Homo sapiens: one gene and its partners. The protein of the gene in region 6 purifies or fractionates together with the protein of the main gene of each other region. This does not show direct contact. Each region holds a gene or a part of one and is shown on either strand. Other genes may lie near its edges. The genes, in order: MAGED2, GRIPAP1, SMC3, LIMD1, TLE3, DZIP3 and GOLGA5.

The links.
Region 1: the proteins of DZIP3 (region 6) and MAGED2 purify together in Homo sapiens (affinity purification with mass spectrometry, with the first as the bait; one study listed by BioGRID). This does not show direct contact.
Region 2: the proteins of DZIP3 (region 6) and GRIPAP1 purify together in Homo sapiens (affinity purification with mass spectrometry, with the first as the bait; one large-scale study listed by BioGRID). This does not show direct contact.
Region 3: the proteins of DZIP3 (region 6) and SMC3 purify together in Homo sapiens (affinity purification with mass spectrometry, with the first as the bait; one study listed by BioGRID). This does not show direct contact.
Region 4: the proteins of DZIP3 (region 6) and LIMD1 purify together in Homo sapiens (affinity purification with mass spectrometry, with the first as the bait; one study listed by BioGRID). This does not show direct contact.
Region 5: the proteins of DZIP3 (region 6) and TLE3 purify together in Homo sapiens (affinity purification with mass spectrometry, with the first as the bait; one study listed by BioGRID). This does not show direct contact.
Region 7: the proteins of DZIP3 (region 6) and GOLGA5 purify together in Homo sapiens (affinity purification with mass spectrometry, with the first as the bait; one large-scale study listed by BioGRID). This does not show direct contact.

The regions. Positions count from the first base shown.
Region 1 is NC_000023.11:54,810,745-54,813,629, reverse strand, and holds part of MAGED2 (melanoma-associated antigen D2), read right to left. Parts: intron 2,810-2,885; coding exon 2,501-2,809; intron 2,381-2,500; coding exon 2,317-2,380; intron 2,057-2,316; coding exon 1,977-2,056; intron 1,474-1,976; coding exon 1,379-1,473; intron 686-1,378; coding exon 606-685; intron 513-605; coding exon 470-512; intron 143-469; coding exon 80-142; intron 1-79. UniProt on the Homo sapiens protein: Regulates the expression, localization to the plasma membrane and function of the sodium chloride cotransporters SLC12A1 and SLC12A3, two key components of salt reabsorption in the distal renal tubule.
Region 2 is NC_000023.11:48,981,765-48,985,264, forward strand, and holds part of GRIPAP1 (GRIP1-associated protein 1), read right to left. Parts: intron 2,107-3,500; coding exon 2,011-2,106; intron 1,677-2,010; coding exon 1,464-1,676; intron 1,329-1,463; coding exon 1,215-1,328; intron 109-1,214; coding exon 31-108; intron 1-30. UniProt on the Homo sapiens protein: Regulates the endosomal recycling back to the neuronal plasma membrane, possibly by connecting early and late recycling endosomal domains and promoting segregation of recycling endosomes from early endosomal membranes.
Region 3 is NC_000010.11:110,588,195-110,591,694, reverse strand, and holds part of SMC3 (structural maintenance of chromosomes protein 3), read right to left. Parts: intron 2,091-3,500; coding exon 1,987-2,090; intron 1,804-1,986; coding exon 1,704-1,803; intron 1,284-1,703; coding exon 1,123-1,283; intron 705-1,122; coding exon 563-704; intron 1-562. UniProt on the Homo sapiens protein: Central component of cohesin, a complex required for chromosome cohesion during the cell cycle. The cohesin complex may form a large proteinaceous ring within which sister chromatids can be trapped.
Region 4 is NC_000003.12:45,681,751-45,684,295, forward strand, and holds part of LIMD1 (LIM domain-containing protein 1), read left to right. Parts: 3' UTR 1-2,545. UniProt on the Homo sapiens protein: Adapter or scaffold protein which participates in the assembly of numerous protein complexes and is involved in several cellular processes such as cell fate determination, cytoskeletal organization, repression of gene transcription, cell-cell adhesion, cell differentiation, proliferation and migration.
Region 5 is NC_000015.10:70,059,918-70,063,417, forward strand, and holds part of TLE3 (transducin-like enhancer protein 3), read right to left. Parts: intron 733-3,500; coding exon 613-732; intron 1-612. UniProt on the Homo sapiens protein: Transcriptional corepressor that binds to a number of transcription factors. Inhibits the transcriptional activation mediated by CTNNB1 and TCF family members in Wnt signaling.
Region 6 is NC_000003.12:108,596,222-108,599,721, reverse strand, and holds part of DZIP3 (E3 ubiquitin-protein ligase DZIP3), read right to left. Parts: intron 1-3,500. UniProt on the Homo sapiens protein: E3 Ubiquitin ligase proteins mediate ubiquitination and subsequent proteasomal degradation of target proteins.
Region 7 is NC_000014.9:92,811,305-92,814,804, reverse strand, and holds part of GOLGA5 (golgin subfamily A member 5), read right to left. Parts: intron 3,255-3,500; coding exon 3,051-3,254; intron 1-3,050. UniProt on the Homo sapiens protein: Involved in maintaining Golgi structure. Stimulates the formation of Golgi stacks and ribbons. Involved in intra-Golgi retrograde transport.

The DNA of each region.
Region 1 (2,885 bases), on a different chromosome or scaffold from region 6:
CATGCACCACGGCTTTATCACTCAGTTCTGAAATAGGCCAAATGCATGGGACACATGAACACCAGACAGAGATACTTACTTCTGCTTCACAAACTCATCAGTGATGAGCTTCTTCACGTCCCCAAAGAGTGAATGATGTATCCTGAGAGAAGAAAAAGAAAAATAAATAAACAAATAAATTCACTCAAGGCTATGGCACTTCCCAGATGTGGGCAGAGGCATTTCCAAGATGGAAAAGAGGTTTCCAGCACAAGAGGGAAGCTCCATAGAAGCCCAAGAGACACTGAGAGAGGGAGCAGAGAGTTCAGGACCATTCACCCATCATCCACCCAGGTCAGAACCCTGGGCCCTCTACCCAGTCCAGCACCCCACCCGCTCCACCAGACCACCAGACTGATGCAATCCTAGGACCGTCCTCTCTTGCCAAAGGACAACACGGACAGCAAGCGCTGAGAGAGCCCAATCATACCCAGGGCGCAGCCCCAACTTGCGCAGCACCTCCCAGATGACAGCTGCGAGGGGAGGCAAGAGGAGACAGGGACAGAAATTGAACACATGGAATCTAGACCACAGCCACCCATTCAGCTGCAAGCCCAGCCACTCACCCTCACTGGACCGATTTCCATTCATGAAGATGATGCTAAGAAGCACCATGAGCAGACCCAGCTTGGGTGAGTCCTTAGTCCTAGAGAAATAACAGGACAGAGAGGTTTATGTTCAGCAGCCATCTGCAACAGACACACCAGCCAACTCACTAGGCTAGCCTCTCCCAGATTCCTCAGATACAGAATTCTACCCAGTCTCTGCTTCCAGCTCTATGCCACCCTTGGCAAGGCACTTAGACTTGCAAGCCTCAGTCTACTCTTCAGTAAAATAGAAAAAATCATATTTTCCCTTCCCTGGGTTTCCAAGAAGATGGAAGAATGGCTGCCAACCTGGTACAACACAAGCACTCAGTCAATGTGAGTCCCTTCTTTCTGTCCCAGAACCTTCAGCCCCACTGACACTCCTGCGCTTCATGCATCCTGATCCACCCACACCAGGAAGCCCTCCTTGAGAACCACTCTGCCAAAGCCAGGCCAGGCACCCAGTAGGAAGAGGCAAGCAACGACAGGCCTGCTTTCCTGGGAAGCTTCTACAGAGACAGCAAACCTGACAGCAGGAATGTCCCACTCCAGGCTCCTACACCCTCCAGTCAATCATAATCAGGTGCCACCACTGTAAGCAGGGCTCCAACTATGCATAGGAACTGGGACGGGGCTTTTGAGACCCTGTCTTTCCTGACTCTCTAAGAGGATGGGGGAAGTAGGACAAAGGAGGAGTAGCAGCACATGGCCAAAGCAGAAGCCCCCCACACCTCAGCCCTTTCCCAGCTTACGTTCCCAGTATGCCTGCATCAGTGGGCTCTAAGGTGCTGAGAAGAATGTACAAGTGGTCATTCTTATCAATTTCCTTCAATTGAATCCCAAATACCTGTGGATGGGGAGAACAGCTTGTGAGATGACAAAATTCAGCTTCCGGGGCATGCTGCAGCTCCCTATGTACCTAGGAGTTTCGCATGTGTGAGAAATCAGTGAGATAATACGCACAAAGTACATAGCTAAGTGCCTGGCACCCGGTAAACACGCTGCAAATGTACTATTGTCATCATCATCTTTGTGGTGAGTGGGACTCTAGGGAGACAGAGAATGGGGAATGAAAGGGAGAGGTGAAATCTCAAATACATGGCAGGAGCTGCCATGGACGGACAGAAGCCAGGATTAAGTTGGGTGTCTTGGGTCCTAGCTGCACTTTTACCATTGACTTGCTGTGTGACCCATCGCTAATCTACACCCCTCCCTAGGCCACTGTCTGCCCCTCAGCATAGCGATGGAGCTGGATTAGCAGGTCTCTTTGGTTCCCGAGAAGGGACTTGTACATTTTTGTTCAATTCAAGGCTTCCCCACTGTGCCCATCCCCCAGGGCTGCCCCTTCACCTTCTCCAAGGAATAGCCTGCTCGTTCAATGATTTCGGGGTACACATCAGTGTATTCTTTGATGATGTCCTTCAGCATGTCTGCAAGGGGAGAGTGTTGTGAGCACCTGACTGAAGAGATGCCAGGTGGCCCTGATGCCCAAGCTATAGACTCTTTGCCAACCACACCAAGGGTGGCATAACCCGGTTCTGTGCTTATCAACAGAGATGCTAGCACTGCCAAATCAGAACTTTGGGAGGACAGAGACATAAGCATAAGAGCAGGGGATATCCCCAGCACAATGGTGTAAGGGCAATGGAGGGCAGAGCTCAGGGCAGAGGGAGGATTGGTAGGACTTTACCCGAGCGCTTGATGGGAATCTTCGTCTGGTCTTTAGCCAAAAGGTACTTCACCAAATCATTTGCCTGGCAGAGTAGAAAAAGATGGAAAGACCAAAACAAGTTTGCAGAAAACTTGAGACGATGGCAAAGAAAAGGACAGCCAAGGCAGTAGAAAAGGCAGAATAAAAACGACAGAGTTCTTACCCTCCCTTGCAAAAGGGCCACATCCCGAGGTGGTGGTGCTTCAGGCTCTTGGGATGACTGGAGCTTGGCAGCTCTACGGCGAGCCTTGCCCCTACGGGCTTTAGGTGATCTCAGGGAGAGCAAGGCTCTCCGGGCCCAAGCAGCCAACCGAGTCCTTGATGCCCTGCGGGCCCAAAAGGCTATGGGACCCCTTGAAGCCCTGCGGGCCATTGAGGCCATTAGGGCCTTTGAGACCCTTCGGCCACCTGTGGTTCCAGAAGCCTGACTCTGATCACTGCTGCCATCCTCTTCCCCATCCAGATGCTTCACCTGCATCAACAGAGAGGAAGCTCAACGTCACCAGATGAAGCAAGTGGTCCTTTTCCTCTCCCTATCTCTTCCAGGA
Region 2 (3,500 bases), on a different chromosome or scaffold from region 6:
GAGAGAGGAACACCATCATGCGAGAGGCACCTTCAGCTCGGCAGCGTGCTGCTCCCGACACTGCTTGAGGGCTTCCTCTTGTTCCTGCTGCTGCTGCTGCAGGGATTCCTACAAGACAAGTCCCAGGTCTGGCCACAGCCCCCCAGAAGGTATCATGCCCAGTTAGGGGTATGAGGGACTGCAATGGGGGCCCAGAGGTATGCAGAAATGACCCTCCTGCAGGGAACCCCACACGCCCTTAGGCAATATGCTGAAGTGTCACATCTAAAGTTGCACCATTCGCATGGTTGACTTAGATTTGCATTTACATTTTATTTTATTTAACAAAACATAGCGCTTACTACATGCCAAGAATGTTCTAAGGGTTTTACATATATTAACTCATTTTCTATAATCCTCCCGTAATACCTAGATGGTAGATATTATTGTTACCCCCTTTTTACCATTGATGAAAACAGGCCACAGAGAGGTCAGATAACTTGCCCAAGGTCACACAGCTAGGAAATGGCCCAGCCAGGATTCAAACCTAGACAAACAACTGGCTCCAGCCTGTGCTCTTCACTGCTACATGACAATGCCTTTCAGTGTATTATGAGATTTCCAGAAAATGGCAACAAAGGTTCTTTTTCCGAGACAGAGTCTCACTCCGTCACCCAGGCTGGAGTACAGTACACGATATCAGCTCACTGCGACCTCTGCCTCCTGGGTTCAAGTGATTCTTCTGCCTCAGCCTCCTGAGTAGCTGGAATTACAGGCGCCAGCCACCATGCCCGGCTAATTTTTGTATTTTTAGTAGAGACAGGGTTTCACCATGTTGGCCAGGCTGGTCTTGAACTCCTGACCTCAAGTGATCCGCCCACCTCGGCCTTCCAAAGTGCTGAGATTACAGGCGTGAGCCACCGCACCCAGCAGGTTCTTGTTCAATAACATCAGTGTATTGCATTAATTTCCTGACAGAAGTACAGTTTCAGGAGAAAGAGGTGCCTTTCCAAATTTGCACAAAGGCAGGGCAGCCTTAACACGTGACAGTCTGTCCTATCTGATGGCCATCCCCTGATCCACTCCAGAGGGCTGCTATTGAGCCAGGGGACTGTGGGGATATCCCTAAGTCCAGAAAATCTCGGGAAGTTCCAGGGCCTGACCACTCCTGCTTCTGTGGTTTGACATGAGGGCCCCAATCAGCCTCTGTTCCTCACCAGGCATCACCAACTCACCTCGGCTTCCTTCAAGCGCCGTTCAAACCAGCCCTTGGCTCCATCCATGGAATGTACCTGAGCTTGAAGTTCTTCCACTGTCTGCTGGAGAGTCTCCAGCTCCCGTGTCCGGGCCTGGGATGGGGCAGACTGTCATGGGCCAGGAAGGCAGAGGAGCGGGCACCTGATGCATGCCACCCACTGGCCTATCAGCAACGCTGTGGTTCCCAGGTTTTAGAGGAAGAAGGGCATCATCATCTACCCACCCACCTTCTCCTCCCGGATCTGCCCACGGAGCTCCTCCTCCTGACGCTTCTTGTCTTCATGCAGCTCTCGGAGCTCACGCTCATAGCGGGCACGCACCCCCAGCACCTCCTTCTCATGCCGTAGACGAACTGCTCCCAGCTCTTCCTTGTGCTGGGACTTCTCTTGCAGCGTTTCCATTGCTAGCTCATCCAGCATGGCCTTCCGCTTCTCCGCACTCTGGGGGCCAGGACGATGGCAGTCAACTTCCTTCCACAACATCGAAAAAAGGCCTCCAACCCTCTTCCCATGCCCAAGGAACTAGCCAAACTCCACTCCCTCCCATCCCCACTGAACTGGCTAAGGCACTCACCCATCCTTATAGAACTGGTCACTTTCTTTCTTTCCCCTCCCACTCTCATGGATTTGGCCAAGAAACTGGTCAACCAGAAACCAGTCAATTTTCCTTTCCCTCCTATCCCCACATGTTTGGTTATATCACCTCCTCCCATCCCCATGGACTGAGCCAATTCCTACCCCCCATCCTCTCCCTTCAACCCTCATGTTCCCCTACCTTCCGAGCCTCCTGTAATTCCTGGGTCAACTGCTCCTTCTCCTGCCCTATTTCTTGAAGTTGTTCCAGCAGTCGACTATTGGCCCGTAATGACTCCTAATGCAGACACCAAAGGGAAAGAGTTTGATAAAGAGCATCCAGTAGGTGCTAGTCACCCAGGACCATCTGGTAGACCATCTCCCTTCTCCCTGGTAAAGTTGGTATTGTGATCTCAATTTCTGGATAGGAAATATAGCAGAGACTGCTAGTTGCTCCCCAGTATTCATTCTTCCTTACTTCCCTAGCAATAAAATTTATCATCGGGCATACAGCTGTCTAGCAGATGTTTCCCCTCCTCCCTTATGGTTAGGTGTGGCCATGTGATTTATTTCTGTATGTGGAAGTGGTGAGTGTAATTTAGGTTATGCTCTTAAAGGAAAGGGGCACACTCTTCCCTGCCCCTTTCCTCCTTCCTTCCAGATAGAATACAAACATGATGGTCGGGGAGTTTCAGCAACCGTCTTGGATGCCAAGATAAAAGTCTTGTGTTGAAGGTGGAGGAACAGCAATGGAGAAAGAACCTGGGTCACAGATGACTGGAAAGCCATCATTCCATCCCTGAATAACCTACCTGGACTTTTAATGAGAGGGAACTAAATTTGTATCTTATTTAATCTACTATTATTCTGGTTTCTATTATGGAATCAGAATGGATATTGCTTGGGAGGCTGAGCCGGGTAGATCTCCTGAGGTCAGGAGTTTGAGAAGCCTGACCAACATGGTAAAACCCCGTCTCTACTAAAAATACAAAATTAGCTGGGCGTGGTGCCAGGCGCCTGTAATCCCAGCTACTCCGGAGGCTGAGGCAGGAGAATCGCTTGAACCCAGGAGGCGGAGGTTGCAGTGAGCTGAGATCGCGCTACTGCACTCCAGCCTGGGCAACAGAGTGAGACTCCATCTCAAAAAAAAAAAAAAAAAAAAAAAAGGAGCCGGGCGTGGTGGCTCACGCCTGTAATACCAGCACTTCGGGAGGCCGAGGCGGGCAGATCACGAGGTCAGGAGATCGAAACCATCCTGGTTAACACGGTGAAACCCCGTCTCTACTAAAAATACAAAAAATTAGCTGGGCATGGTGGCAGGCGCCTATAGTCCCAGCTACTCGGGAGGCTGAGGCAGGAGAATGGCGAGAACACGGGAGGCGGAGCTTGCAGTGAGCCGAGATCACGCCACTGCACTCCAGACTAGGTGACAGAGCAAGACTCCATCTCAAAAAAAAATTAAATTAAATTAAAATTTAAAAAATGAAAAAGAATTGATATCCTAACTAACTGAAGAGGCTCAGTTTCAGAGAAGTGAAATGACTTGTCCCAGAACACACAGGTGCTAATAAGTTAGGGAGCCAGACTGGAACCTAGGTCCTCCTGACTCCAGTCTTCCCACTCCACCTTACTGGGGACTTCACTGGGCCATTACTAGGGAACTAGGAAGAGACAGGCCAGAGCCAAAGGTGT
Region 3 (3,500 bases), on a different chromosome or scaffold from region 6:
GCAATTACACTGTTCTAAGAATGGTGTCTGAAGAATATTTTTAATCCACCTAAAGTGCACTTTTGTTACCAACAAAAGCAATGTTATGCTTCCGAAGTCTATCACCTTACTAGCCATTTTTTTCATTTAATCCTAAGTACGTCAAGACACTTTTAAACTATACATGACAGTTCCTTGGGAATCTTTCTCCAACTCCCTAACCTTAATTATGTCACTCCCAGATATGCTCTCAAAGTATCCTGTACTTACGCTTTTAACACTGCACATTTGCAATGATTTGTTTCATATCTTAGCTTTTTTCTCTTCTTTTTAAATGATCCTCCCACTTCAGCCTCCCAAGTAGCTGGGATTACAGGCGTGCATCACCACACCAATCATAGCTGTGACTTCTGTCTCCCTCCCCAAAACCCACTCAGCACTAAGGTCCATGGGAAGACAGATATTTTTATCTCATACACCACTGAATCCCAGTGTATAGTGCCTGGGCACTAGCATGTGTTAGATTATGTGATAAAAAATAACATTATAAAAGAGAAATACACCTTATCACACAATGACTCACATTGGTTTCAGGATAGGCTGTATCCCTGACATCTAACTTGTTAAGAGGCAGAAAAGTAACCTCTCCAGGAAGATTCATTTTATTAAACTCCATTAAAATCTTCGTGCTGACTTCATCTGAATCAACAATGTGATAAAATAACCTAAATATAAACAGAGTAAGACAAATCTTTATTGGTACTCAGGGTCTCCCTATGTTGCCCAAACTTATCAATCCTCCCACCTCAGCCTCCTGCATAGCTGGGACTAAAGGTGTGCACTTTTAAAATGTTATAAACACTTAAGCATCAAACAGTTTTTTCCTATATAATCCAAATAATTTTGGAAAATAAGACTACTTTAAAAATTCCAATGGCGGGGAGGGAGAAACTCCCAAAAGAGGAAAGTTCTAGCTTCTATAATTAGGAACAAATACTTAGCATCTACTTCTTTAATTAGAAAGTTAAGGAACCGAGATATAAAAAGATAATGGAAGATATGTTGTACAAAAACTACAAAAGTTGTTTAAGCTATTCTTATTCCCTCTTCTAAAAATGCTAAATATCAAGCAAAAGCTTTAACCTGTTTCCAGCAGTGACTTCCACGCATGTGTAGAAAGCTGGTTCACATTCAAAGTTATTCATTACAATACCATGATAGCCATTTTGAACATGCTGGTTTATTCCTTTTCGACGGAAGTGGTCTAGCACTTTGTTTATGCTGTCTATTCCATTTAAAATGGCCTGTAAGTTGTCAGAAATGAAAAATATTAAAATAATATCATCAATGGCACTCCTGGTAAGGAATGAGCCCACAACACCATACATTTTAAAAATATACCAGTGATTAAACTAAACATCCTCTCCAACAAACACATCACCTCCTCACAATATGCCAACTACATGTAACACCTTATATGATAGGCTCTGTTCCATAACAGTAGTGTTAAAAATGGGCTCTTTATCTGAACATCAAAAGTGCTATTAATAGTATGTGTAGTAATAAAACTATTTAATCTCTATCATTTCATATTTAGAAGATAATTTGGACTCCTATTTATCACTTGGAACCCATGACCTACACCTTGAAAGGTAAAAAATTATTACATAACGATTAACTCAATGACTCAGTGTAAACAGAGGTGATGAAAAGAACCTGCCCACCTTTCCTGTTGCTGCTCTAAGAAGTTGTTGCTTCTTTTCAAGATCTTCTCTTTTAGCAGCAAGTGCTTGCTGTTCTGCATTCTCTTCTCTCCACAAGTAGCTAATAAATAAAAAGTAGACTGTCTTTAATTTTAAACACATATGAGGATGCATTAACAGTATACAGTTTAGAATCAAAATACAGAAAACAAGCCTGACCGGTTAACTTGTAACTTAAAGACCACATAACAGCTAGTAACGAACATTACTGAAAACATTAATGCACATTTTAGTCTATACTAACTTTCTTTCACTTTGTAGTTCATCTTTCTTATTTTTTACTTCGTAATATTTTCTGTCCAGTTCTTCTACTCGAGCTTTGACTTCATTAAGATCCTGGTCCAGTTTCTATGGAAATAAAAATAAATTTAAAATTCAATTTCATGAAACTAATCTACACTGATAGAAAGCAGATCAGTGGTTGCAGATGGATGGGGGAGGCGGACAAAAGGTGAGGGAGGAATTACAAAGGGGTATGGAAAACGCTTTTGGGTAATAAACGTGTTTATTGTCTTAACTGTGGTGTGTGGTGTCTTAACTGTGTGGTGTTTTACAGATGTATACGTATGTCAAAACTCATCAAATTATATACTTTATTTTTGCCACTTTCCTGACTAGGAAAAATGATGTACACTAAATATGTACAATTTACTGTATGTGAATTATACCTCAATGATGCTGTTGAAAAATCCAATTTCAGTTTGTTTTTTTTGTTTTTTGTATTTTTAGTAGAGACGGAGTTTCACCGTGTTAGCCAGGATGGTCTCGATCTCCTGACCTCATGATCCGCCCGTCTCGGCCTCCCAAAGTGCTGAGATTACAGGCGTGAGACACTGCGCCCGGCCCCATTTCAGTTTTTAAAAGTTGTCTTTAGGCAAAAGAGCATACCACACCAGAAAACACAAACCATTAAATACTATAAAACATGTTGCTAAAAGTTAATTTGTTCATTAGTGATCTAAATCTTCCTATTTCTATAATATACACTCCAGAATTTTAGAAAAAAAATTCTAAGTTCTCATAATAGTCCATTATATACTTTCATACTGCCCCCTCTACACACACACACAACAGAACACAAAAACTATTTTCAACTATTTTACATTCAAGAAAAATGAGTTAAAAATCTTGGCAGAACCTATAACAAATCTCTAAGAACCTAACGTAAGATGCTGTTTCCTTAAGGAGAATTAATGAACTGTATTCATTAATTTAGTAGACTATACTGAGCTGAAAAAATCCAATAGCCTCACTGGCTAGAGTTTAAGGAAGCTGACACTTCATCCACTTAGTGAAGTTACCAAAACCCCAGTATGTACCAGGCATTCTTAGAAGAGCTGGGGAATCATAAAAGACCAAAGCAAACAAAAATCCTTGCCTTACTGGGAAGCAATAAGACAAGCAAAATAAAGCTGAAGATCATCCTTCAGGGGAAGGGCTTCAAACTGCTTCATAAAGTAATTACATTCATCTGTTTGTATTATAACTAATTATTGTCAGATATCAAAGTAATTGTAAATATTCCCACAGAGTACTGACAATTATTCATCCTCAGTAGTAACACTGACTTTTTGTCCAAAATTTTAATGGACAAAAGTCAATGTTACTACTAATTCCACTGACAAAAAGTCAATGTTACTACTGAGTCACAAAATCTTAGATTGGCCGGGCGCGGTGGCTCACACCTGTAATCCCAGCACTTTGGGAGGCCGAGGTGGGCAGCTCATGAAGTCAAGAGATGGAGACCATCCTGGGCAA
Region 4 (2,545 bases), about 63 Mb from region 6:
TGGTGTCTATTCTTACCAGATGTATAAAAATGTGAGAGGCCTTGGAGAATCATATCCCAAGAATCAGCAGTTTCTTTTACTGGACCTTTAAGATTGAGACTTGTAAGGTCCTGATGCAGTGACTTGTAAGGTCACTTTGTCTCTCTTGTGAATGTTACTGTTTTTTCTCTTCTGAGGTTATGACCAAAGAATCCTCAAGGCGAGTGATCCTTCAGGTTTGAGACAGCCACATGCAGGAAGACAGGACTTGTAGAGTGTTGGGGCCAAGTGTGTGGTTAGAATCCTTGGGGTGGGGAAAGAGTTTGTTCTAGACTCCAGTGTAGTCCTTGTGGCTACCAGGTCTGACGTGCCAAGGACACGGGAAAGCTGGGAGTGAGGATACTCATAGTCATAGCACCTTACACCAGAATAAAAGTTTTTTTTTTCTTTTTAAGTGATGAGAGAATGGCTAGTCTGATTTTGCCAACATGGGCTGCTATTTGCTTAAGACCTTGATGGTATAAGGAGTGAAGATGCAATCAGGGTAAAAGGCGGTCTGGAGTTGTGGTGTGCTGGCAAACCAGCCCTCTGGGGCAAAAAATTAAAAAGCCTTGATATGGAGTGTTTGCTGATACCTATGATGTAAATATTCCCGCCATGGCCACTTTCCAGCTACCAGCAAGGCATCCTGGCACCAGGGATTGGGAGGAGATGGCATAGTCCTAAGAGTCAGCCTTGGGCATTGGGCCATGTGGGACTGGGCAGTGGGGTATCTGGTCTGGTTCTAAGTGCTGTGATGAAGCAGTAGCAGCTGTAATAGCTGGCATTTCCCGTGTGCTCATCACATAGCAGATGTTATTCCAAGGACTGTATGTTCTTTATCATCCCTCATTTGATAGACAAGACAACTGAGACACAAAAGGGTGAAATAAACAGTAAGTACTCCATCCCAGGCCATCTCATCCAGAGGGTGCTGTCTTGACCACTCTACTACTCTGGTTGATGGGAGGCAGTAAATTGTCCATCAGTATACTTCTTCATCAAAGCTACATAGTCAAAAAGCCACAGGAGGCTGTGAGGAGAAGCTCACTGCTGCTCTGTTGAAGTCTGTATTGGTTTCCTATGGCCACTCTTAACAAATTACCACAACCTCAGTGGCTTAAAACAACACAAATATATCATTCTGTCATCCTGGACACGAGCCAAAGGTTGTCGGCAGAAGCGAATTGCTTCCAGAGGTGCTATAGGGTGCTGCCCATTCCTTGCCCCTTTTCCGCTTCTAGAGGCTGCCCATTTTCCTTGGCTTGTGGCTGCATCATTCTGGCTGCTTCTATTGTCACACCTCCTCTCTGACCCTCCCTGCCTCCTTGTAAGGACACTTGGGATTACGCCCATCCAGATAATCTAGAATAATCTCCCATTTTGTGATTCTTAATAACATCTGCAAAGCCTCTTTTACCTTGCAGAATAAGATATTCACAGGTTCTGGTGAGGAGGACAGGGACATCTCTGAAGGGGAGGGAAGCAGGAGATAGGGTCTGGAGGCATGGAATTGGCTTCCTAAGGCCAATTCAGGCTGACTTCCTAGAACTAAGTCAAAAGGAAAACCCCAACTTTCCACGCTCAAGTAACAAAAGGACCAGAGGCTACTCCCTTTGCAACCTCCCCACCCCCAGCCCCTTTTCTGCATGGCAGGTGAAAAATTGAAAGTATCGCTAATTGATCCCCTCCCACAACCAATCAGACTGGTCTTAGGCCAAGTCTTCATTTGCCTAGGAGTATAACTTTGTAACTTCAGCCTCTGATTGGGCGTTTTACACAACCAGTCAGATGTTTGTATAGGGTGGTGTAACTTTGTAACTTTGCTTCAGCCTCTGATTGGTCCCCTCCCACAACCAATCAAACTGATCATGGACCTCTGCTTCATTTACATAGGGTGTACACCAAGTAACCAATGGGAAACCTCTAGAGGGTATTTAAATCCCAGAAAATTCTGTAACCGGGTTCTTGAGCTGCTTGGGCTGCTCCCACCCTGTGGAGCGTACTTTCGTTTTTCAATAAATCTCTTTTGTTGCTTCATTCTTTACTTGCTTTGTGCGTTTTGTCCATTTCTTTATCAAGACGCCAAGAACCTGGACACCCTCCACCGGTAACAGGAGGAGCATTAGTCAGCCTACCACAGACTCCAACGAACGTTTTTTGAGAGGAAATGAAAGAATATTCCTAAGTTATTGGGTGCCTTTTCTTCAGGAATCCCTGAAAGTGGGGGTTTGCAATTTTCCCTGGATTGAAAACAGAAATGCTTCCTACACAAACATGATTGAGACCTTGTACTCTAGGTGTAAAAAAACAGAGTAGGTCATACTCTGTGGGTTATGGTCAGAGAGATCTGGTTAGAAGTTCCCAGGTAGGCGACAGCCCTAGATGTGTGACACTTCTAGGAGAATCTCTGGCTATGTGGATACGTCCAGGTGTGTAAGGCAGCCTCAGGGACTGCCACCACTTGGTCACATACATGTCCCTCCAACTAATCCTAGCTCTCAAGGACAGGTGGTTCTGGGCCCTG
Region 5 (3,500 bases), on a different chromosome or scaffold from region 6:
TGCTCAATGTGTCCAAAGCCACACAGCAGCCATGTGGCTGAAGAGGGCTGGGTGCAAGACCGCTGAGGCCCTGCACCATATCCTCCCCTTCCCTCTGTCCCAGCTCTCAGCCCTGCACAGCCTGACACAGGGGAAACACAACAGCCATGCTTCCACTAGGGTCTCACGTGCCGGGGGCATCCCATTAAAAGGCTAGTAAAAGCCATGACTGGGTGGCCAAGTGAGTGCATGCCTCAGGCCAACTGAGAGGACTATAGGGTCCACATTTTGGGGGTCACTGGGAGCAGCCCCTTAGAGCCAAGTGGGATTCCGGCAGCACCATGACAGCAGCATGGGGTTGTTGGCCTGTCTGTGGGAAGAGACCCCATGGAGGCTAGGACGACCTCCCCATCCACCTCCGCCCCACAGTGGCTCGCATGCTCATAGCGTGTGTGAACTTCACCCTAGCCCTGTTCCCACCCTGCTCTCCTCAATAGGGTCCCCTATCGCCAACCTGTGCTTCTCTGACTCACTGCCAACCACAAGAAGACCCTGGCCACAGCTTGGGCCCTGCAGACACCCCCTGCCCTACCCAACAGAAACCCCAGTGGTGCCATGGCGCCTTGGACGTACGTATCGGCTCAAGCTGTCCTTCTCCTCCGCCTTCCGCTTCTTGGCTTCCATGCTGTAGTCCGCAGAGCCCCGGTGCTTCTCACTGGCCCGGAGGCTTTCCGAGGGTGACACAGAGTTATTCTGGAAGGAAAAAGAGGGTTCGGGGTTAAAACTTTCTGCTGCGTGTAACAATTCACACATCCGCACACAGCTAAGTGCAGGTGACACGGAGGTCAGGGGAGGGAAGAGAAGCTGAACTCCTCTCTGCCCTGCAGATCGTGGCTCCATCAGAGCCTTGCCAGGGAAGCCTTCCCCACTCCCCTGAGACTGAGTCCCCGGGGAGATGCCCTGGGCGCATCCCCAATTCTCTTTTGCAGCTCTGCACTGCTATTAAATAATTAACCCTGCAGTAAGCCGTCTGCCTTCTGGCCTGTGGGACTACGCTCTGTGAGGGCGAGGGTCACCTGGGTCTCATTCACCACCCATCTCGCGCTTGCCACACTCATTTGCTCAAAGGAGGGATAAGTGGAATTTGCACTGAGTCTTGTAAGATGGATCTGAGCTGACAGGCAGGGGCCATGAGCAATACTTCATTTGCTGAGCCCGACAGGAATGGGGAGATTGATAGGGAAGGAGGGCGTCAGGCAGCCACCAACTTCCCAGTGGAGATGAGCAGCCAAGCGTTCTGTGTGAACACCCCCGCCTCCACGGTGAGGCTGTCAGCAACTCTGGAGAAACACCAGGGTTGTAAAAAAAACAAAAATGCCACGTCATGAAGCCTTTCCCTCTGACAGACAGGGAAAGGAGCAAGGGCAGGGACAGTCACTGCCTCTGTAGCCATCACCAAGTGGAGACCCCAAGAGGTTGGTGAATGTGCCCAAGCTCCCCTAGCAGAAGGTGGCACAAAGGGAACCCCAAAATTTCGTGAGTTCTCCCTCAACTATAAAGCAAATGAGGATGAGAAGCCTTTGGGATGGGAGGCCTGGGAAGAGGGAAGATGACGGAGTAGTCCTAGGGGTTGATAGTGGTCAGAAATCACCATGTGGCTGTTACCACCGAGCTGGGGAGCAGGGAGGGAAGTGCAACTGGCAAGGGCACCTGCCAGCAAACCTCTGTGCCCAGAGACTAATATCAGGACCAATGCCCCTCTATGATATTGGTGAGGTTTACTCCTTTCTAAGAGTCCAAACTTTACCTTCACCCACCCACCAATTTCCGAGCAGCTGCCCTGGGTCAGCCCTGGTGCTGCAGGCCAGGAGTGGCAGAATGAATGAGATACAATCCCTGCCCTCCAGGAGCTCATGGTCCAGCTATGATGGAGCTGGAAGAAAAGGACAGGCCATCCCAGGTCCCAGTCCCCATGCAACACAGGAGGTCATATGGAGACCCAGAGGGACATCTGTTCAGAAGAGAAGAGCATCAGAAGGCAAGTGGAATGAGGCTTCCCTTCTCTTCTCCACTTTCCCAGAGGCCAAGCGTGGCTCAGGGGCAAGGGCCACTTGGAGGGAACGGGGCTGGGCAGTATTCGGTGGGAATAGTGCGGCAACCAGCCTCAGAACTTAATTTCCTTTCCTAAGCCGGGTTCTGGGCAGCCCTACCCGGCCAAGTTTCTGCCCGAAGCAAATTAAAATGGCAGAGTTATCAAGCCTTGAAGAAAAAATGGAGGTTATAATGGAACTGCAGCTCAACCTTCCCCACAGCCGTGCAGGAGCGGTGGCGATGCGCGCACAGCCACAATTCAATTAGCTGCTGCAATCGCCGGCAGAAAAATCACCGTCATTTCATTTCATTTCCTCTGACGGTGGTGGCCACCCTGTGCTAAGCAGAAATGCTTCCAGCCCCTCGCACTGGCTGCCCCTTGCAGGCGGGCGGGCAGGGGAGGGGGCGTGCGGCTGCTCGTGTTTCTCCTCGCGACCCGGTGCTCGGCTCGGGAGAACAGCGAGCTCTTTCTTCTCATGCAGTCAGGCTGAAAACCCTCGCCGCTACCGGAGAGTCATGTCAGGCATTTAGCGGCATCGATCCAGCCCGCCTCTGGCTGGCAGGCGGCCAAAAAACTAAGTATTTTTTATTGCTTCGGCTAGGCAAGGAAATATGAATGAAGCTACCACTAATTGGACTCCAGACTAACCCCTCTGGGACAGCTTCCAGCCCGTCCCCCCATCCCCCCTCCCACTCTGACACAGCCCTGTCCTTCCTGCCGTAGGCCTCATCTGTTGACAACCTGGTTTCCAAAGCCTGATTATTTCAGTCTACACCGCCGCTGACACCGTCACCACGCCACATGCCATGCGCACAGCCTCGGCCCTGCCCACTGCTGCCTCTGCCCAGCATCTTGATTCATTCCCACTGGAGTTTCCTGAGGCCCATGTGTGCCATGCATGGACCTCAGCGAGCATGGTAAACAGCCCAGCTCTTGGGGGTTCCCAGGGGGGGTCTTTTAGCAGAAAACTTTCACAGATGGGGCACAAAGCCAGAAGCCAATAGGGATGAGGATGAGGTAAAGACTCATGCTCTTTAGAGAGTGCTGGGCTTCCCACTCCCCCTCCAATTCCACTGAAGTGGGTCCCTGCTAGCCAGGTAATCTGGATCCTCAGTCAGGTTATAAAGGGTCTTCCGAAACAAAGCTGAGAGGTTGGTCAAGCAGGAATTATTCCCATGGTATGGATAAGGAAACTGAGGCTCAGAGAGGCCAAGAGAACTACACAGGGCCTCATAAAGCTGGGACCAGACCTCAGCCTTAAAATGTCCAATCCAGGCCTCCGCCTATCTAGGCAAACTGCCTCTCCGAAAAAATGCCACTGTTAGAGGATCAGTACCGAGGCAGTGAACATGGATTTTCAGCTTCAATGACTCCTCTCTTAGGTACCTAGCCATTCCTCAGCCCAAATGTGGTCCTGGATTTCTGAGCA
Region 6 (3,500 bases):
CTTCATGACCTAATTTATCTCCCAAAGGCCCAACCTCCTAATACTATCACATTGGGGGTTAGGATTTCAACACTGAATGAGGGGGGACACAAACATTCGGTCCACTGTGCAGTTGTTCTGTGGTTACAGCACTATGAAAGTCTTTATTTCTCGTATGTTAGTGAGCTCTGTGTAGACAAAAATGGCTGAGGCCATTAGGTTAGACTCAAAGAATAACAAGTTAACAAGTTGCACCATTATTTTGTATTAGCAATAATTAGTATGAACAAAATATACTGATTACTTGGTTTTATAATTTACTGTTAATTTCTCCATTTTTTAATTTGTTTAACTTCCTGGTAAAGCTACAAAATAAATACACCTAGACACCAGTAGCTAAAATATTATTTGCTCCCAAAGAACATACAGTTTGCTTATTCAAACTCCAGAACTTATGGATGATGGTGGAAAAATCTTTGCAAAAGTTATCAGAAACTGGAAGATATTTTCTATCCCAAAAGATCACTGTTTATGTTAGCTCTTGCCACTTTGCAAAGATCACTGTTAGCAATATATCTGCTTAAACCAGGAAATAAGTGCCTTATAATGTATACTCATCACCCCTTGTTACAAATCTGCCAACATGGGAAACATCCTTTCCTAAAGCAAAATTAACATCTTGTCTTAAGCAGGTTTTAAATTCTGTTCAGATCTATTCAATTAGTTACTTTTGGACTTACACAGGTAAACCTATAGTATACATATTAATTTGTTTTGAATAGTTGGAATGTGCCTACAATGAATATGCACAAGTTAGGATTTACCTGAAAAACTATCCAGATACTAAACAAGCCATCAGTTTCAAACATTTACAGATAGCACTGCTAAAACCACACTCTTCAGAAACGTAGCTAGAAACCACTGGAAGAAGCATATGCTACCCCTAAGCACATACTCCAAAGGTGGAATATTTTCAGCAATTTAAAAATATTATGTTGTCATTATAGTTGTTAGATAATGAGAAAAGAAGGGAGAATCCTGAGACATAACGCACGCAGAGATGGTAATCAAATAGGGAATGGGAATACTTCTTTCATGTACTTGCCTCTACCACCACCAATGAAAGCTTGCCCTATCCACCTCCAGCTTGCTCCACCCCATGTAAGAAAATTGGCAGCTCACTGTTATCTCAGAAAAGCATACATTTGTAAGAAGCGTGTAGGTAAGAAGGCAGAGCGAGCTTTTGGTTATAAAGAGTTTCTTTTCATATAGTATTAACTGAGTGTATTACCTTGGGTTGCATTGAAAATAAGCTTAATTTTCATCAGCTCCTATGTGCCACGCTCTAAGCTATGCACCTTGAATAAACATCTGATCTTTACACAACTATGGAAGATAAACATTATTGTAATAAGTTTTAAAAATTAAGAAACTGAGGCTTATAGAGTCTCATAGCTAATAAATCCGTAAGAGCAGAAATTCATGCCCAAATTTTACCAACTGCAATTCTATTTTCTTCCATGTCCCATTACTTCTAGTAACATATTTAATTTTATATAAGCTTAGTGTATAATTATGAGCTGGACTAGATAATATGCACATATGCATACTCAGAAATGAAACTATTTACACATTCTTAGTAATACTATAAAAGTTATTAATCATGCCAGCCTAATATTTCATAGTCACTAGTCACACTAGTTTTTGCTAAGAGTTTTTCTATTCAACAAAACAATTCAGATACTATACATGGTACTGAAATAAACAATGAAATGGACAATAGTTCACACCTGGCTAAATGATCTCTCAAAGTTAAAGATTTTTAAAAATGAAATCTCCAAACTTTTTTGATCACATAGCCCTAAAACAGTAAAAGATCTGAGAATATGCTGAAAATATAAGAATATCAATTCACTTATAAATTATATGCAGGCATAATTATTATAACATAAAAAAAGAATAAGATAAAAGCAAGTAAAAAACGTTTTAATATTTGTTCCCACACCTCAATGGACAGTTTCACATATCCCCTGAGGTGTGCATACTGTACTCTGGACACTACTGTCTTCGAAAACAGCTTCACATTTTAATTCAGGAAATAGATATCCACTCATTTCATAAGCCTGATAGTATTTATTTTCTGAAAGACCAGAAATTTAAAAGTGAGATAAGCAAAGACCCATGCTCTGCACCTATCTTGAAGATAGGTCTTCAAGAAATAGTAATTACCAGGATTACTGTTCCTTAACTTAAAAGTATATCATTTTCATCTTTACTTACACTCTACTTATACTTAACACTGGATTCAGAAACAATGGATAGTACTTGCATTAAAAAAAAAAGGCAAGGCAACATTCTTATTCTGGGATAGATGTGATTAGATTTGAGATGTGGTATAAGATATGAAAATGGGGGAATATATACTCAAAATATTCAAACCTTGTACTCTTAACCTAAAGTTGAATGCTGTGAAATGTATAAAAAGAAAAAGCAGAAACTGTTTGAAAAGTGAAAGTTAACTTCATGGTTGGGCAAATCATTTAGAGTTTAGCTGAACTGTAATACTTGATACTTGTGAAAGAAAACAGGAAAAATAATTGTAAAAGGAGAATTAATTTTTTTTAGATTTTCTGGCTTTGTGACAAAGGTAACATTTCTGAAAAATATGAGTTGACACTAATCATACACTTAGTTTCCTGACTCTGCATAAGGGGTAGAATCAGATTAATATTAGCATTTGAATTATTTTAGCTATATTGGGCACATGGTTATCTAAATGACCCCATGCCTAGACCTGTGCCAATTTTCTACTGCAGGATTTCTGATTTCATGCTTTAGAAACTGGGCCAGTGAAACTTTTGTTCTACCAGCCGTTTATGTCTACTGAATAATCCCTCAGTTTTAGATTTGGCTTCATGTCCCCACTAGAATATAAGCCCCATGAAGTTAGGAAAACTTTGTTTTCATTCCTTGGTGCCTAGAATAGCACCTGGCACACGTTAAGCACTCAATATTGCTTTAAAAAATGAACTCACCCACCCTTCTGCACACCTCAAGGCCTCTGAAGGCAGATGTAAAGAGGGAGCCCGTGTGTAGATTGTAACAGCCTTCTTGGCCAACCTAAAATTCTCCTTTAGAAGTCAAGAGGCAGCTCATATGCTACAAGTAAAGCTGGTACCTGTAGGCAACCATGGCGTCAAGACAGAACCTGTGTCTTCTTGCAGTTAACTTCTGTCTCCTTTGCCAGTTCCTCCACACTTCTCCAACCTCTAAATACTTAAATATCAGGGAGTTCAGTCCTAAAAAGTCTTTTCTATCCATACTTGGTCCTATATCATTTAGTCTCAAGGCTTTCAATTTCTATCTCCAACCCTGACCGCTCCTTTAACTACCAGTAATTTGATAGCCTACTCAATCTCTCCTGGATGTCTAACATCACAACATAACCTAAATAGAAATCCAGGTATCTGCCCCTCTCCACGAAAAGGCTGAAGCACAGCCACCCAGTCAAATCAGGCCTG
Region 7 (3,500 bases), on a different chromosome or scaffold from region 6:
TGACATGCAAAGACCAGTTTATAAAGTCCTAATTCTAGACTAGGAACAACAAGGACCAGCAGCTTTCACGTTAAATTAAAATATTTTAAAGTCATTCTCCTCCATCAAAAATAATTTTTCCTTTTCTGGGTGGTAGGATTATGGGTTATTTCCATTTCCTTCTTCAAACTTCTTTTGTATTCTTCAAATTTTCTATAATAAACATGATCATTTATAACATTTTAAGATTTTTTTTAATAAAAAACCAGAAACCTCCCAACCTCATTCCCCCATCTAGCTACTGTCCTCATGTCCATGGTCAAGTACCCTGCCTCCATGTCTTCAGCTCCCAGCGCACCCCGGAACTCTCTGTTGAGAGGTCCCCAGGGACCTCCTAGTTGCCAAGTCCAGGAATTTAGCTCGGGACTTGTCACATCAGAGCCGCGTGCTGTGGTTGGTGATCATGCACCACTTGAAACTCTCCCTCTGCTTGGCTTCATTGGATGGCATCAGTCTCCTCCTGGTTCTCTCCAATCTCTGACCACTCACCTTCTCAGTATTTTTCTTTTGCAGGCTATCCTTTTGCCCAATTTGTAAATGCTGATGTTTAAGACTGTGTTTTTAGACCTCAGCCTTTCTCCCCGTTAGGTTACACATCGCTCTTGCCTAAACTTACCTACTCTCCCAACTTACTTCTAATTACCTTTCTAACATTGTCACCTCAATGTTGCATCAATTTTGCATACTTACCATAATTCGTCATACTCTCCTTTAACCCTAACCTGTTCTCTTTCCTGTTTCCCCTTTTATTAACACAAGGAAACATCATTCATACACTTAAACCAAAAACCTGGAGTCATCCTGGATTCCATTTGCCTTTTTCCCCCATCCTTCCAGTTAAATCTCCACATGTCATATATTCTATCTCCCACATATCTCTTAGCTGTCCCCTGCCTGCCATCCTCACTGCCAAAAACTTTGATCAGGTCCTCATTATTTCTTATGATCACCTCTTCACCATCTACATGCCATTGATGCCACCCCTTATCACTTCCATGTTTTCAACAATGTACCGAATACCAGGCACTGTGCTGGGGATACAACGATGAACAAGACAGAGGCCCAAATCTCCCCTAACCTTTTCATCAGGCTGCCACAGTTCTCACACTCAAACCTGACCATGGCTTCTGCCTGCCGTTGAACTTTATGAGTCTTTTGCCTCCCATCTCTGAAGACGTTATGTTCCAGCAGTATGGAACTAGCTGCAGTCCCTTAAATATGCCATGTTCTCTCTGGCCCCCTTGCTCTGGCACAGGTTGTTCTCTCGGAAATCTCTTCCCTATCATGAGTCTTCCTATTCATCTTTCAAGTTTCTCTTTATACCACATCTCCTCAGTCCAGTGATCTTTGACAGCCTCAGGCAAGTTTTAAGGGATTCTTCTCTCAAGCTCCCATTGTACTGCATTAATAACCTTATTACGTCAATTATCTGTTTCTTTCCACTAAGATGAATGTTTTCTTAAAGGAAGAGGACACATCTTTTGAGCTTTGTATCCTCTGTGCCTAGTGAGTAGTTAGGTGCTCAATAAGTAACTTTTCAATGAATTAACAAATTAGGGTGATACAAAAAAGTACTTAGAAAGAAGAGTTTGAGGAGGAGATCAATATGATACTTCATGGAAGTAGCATTAAAAAAAGGTATTCATAGCCATTAGAAGTTTGAGACTAAAGAAAAAAGGTAAAGTCAAAAATGACCCTGAGGTTTCAAGCTTTACTGCCACATGGCAGTAACGTTGACCAGAACAGAAGAATGAGGGAGAAGTTGGTCTGGGAGCTGAACACTCCATGCCTGCACAGTAGGCAGCTGGGCACTGAGGTCAGGAGGTCAGGCTTGGAAACATGCTTGAAGTCATATGCAGGCGGCTATTAGAAGCAGAGGCAGCATACAGCAGTGCAAGGTAAGAAAGGACAATGAAAGAGGGTTCAGGACAGAGCTTAGGAGGACTCTGACTCTTTGGAGATTGGGAAGAGCGCCCAAGAGAGACAGAAACAGCAGTAGAAGAGGACAAAAAGAGAGCCAAGGAGATGTGAATAGCATAGAAGGCAGGAGTTCCAAGGAAGTGGGAGGGTTAACAGAGCCAAATGTTCTACCAAAATACAAGGTATGGAGACTAAGAAAAGGACAGAGAATATTTATTTAGGTCATCAAATATTTTTGAGAAGAAATTTCAGACATGTAGTAGGAAAAGAAGGAGATAAGAGTTAACAAGTTCTACAGAAATGAAGACAGCACGTACACAATTCTGGTAAGCATGACACTGAAAGAAAGGAAGATAGGGAAATAGTGCAAAGTGGTCACAAAGCTAAAAGAGACTGTTTTTCTCTTAGGCAGGAGTCCGAGATCTAGTCTTCATTTTTCCACTAAATAACCATGTGCTCTTGAGTAAGCTGAGCCAGAAGGCAGCAGCAGCAGAGAGGCACACACAGGAAGGAAGGGCATAGATCTATGGAGAAAGGGCTTACACATGAGATGGGAGATGGAATCAATGCACAGGCAGGAAAATGATCCTAGAAAAAAATGAAAGGACATGTTTTCCCTCTGAGGGACAAAGGAAAGAGAATTCAAAAACGACATTAGATGACTGTAGTCTTTCTTAGTAAAGTAGAGGGTAAGATCACCTTAGATCTGAAGGAGGGGAAAAAAAGCTGGGTGAGACAATTCTGAGAACTGGATGAGTCCTAAAGCAGTTGCTGCAAAAATTCAATAGGAGATCAACAAGGAAGAATAAACAGCTGCTCAACAACAAGCATTAATATCATCACAGTGAGTAAGGTGACAGGTTGAAGACCTGAACTAGGCAGTGGCAGAATGAATTTTTTTTTTAAAAGAAGTGGTAGGAACAAGAAACACTGCATCCTTTAATAAAATTTCTAAAGTAGAGTAAGGCACCTAAAGCTAGCCAATCAGACGAACATGAACAAAGCACCTCACACAGTATCTACACAGTCTCAAATTGCCTTTCAGTTAACTTGCACATCTTAACATCCAAAAGTGTACATTTCATGCTTACTTGCAGTATTCTAGTAGCTTTTTGCTTGTAGTCAATTAATTCCTGCTTAGAGGACTCCAAGTTCAACTTATACAGCTTGACTTGCTGCTGCAGTTCATCAACCCTCTTCTTCTCATCTGAGTATTTTCTTTCGGCCAGTGTAATTGCTTCTGCTAAATTCTGACGTTCCATTTCCACTTTATTAAGGCGTGCAGCAAACTCGCTCTGTGACAAATTTTTATATCATAATTAATGATATCATTTAGCTTTGAAACATATTTTACAACCATCCATTCGGATATCTTATGGGATTTATTAGCTCAGCCAAACAACATAGTAGGGATGGGAAAAAATTCTTAATTTGTTAGGAGCTAAAGTATAGGAAATGTAAAGTTGTAACTCCCAAACATGGCAATGCATTAAAATCAACCAGGAAGTTTGTTAAAAATATAGCCATCCAAGGCCTTTCCC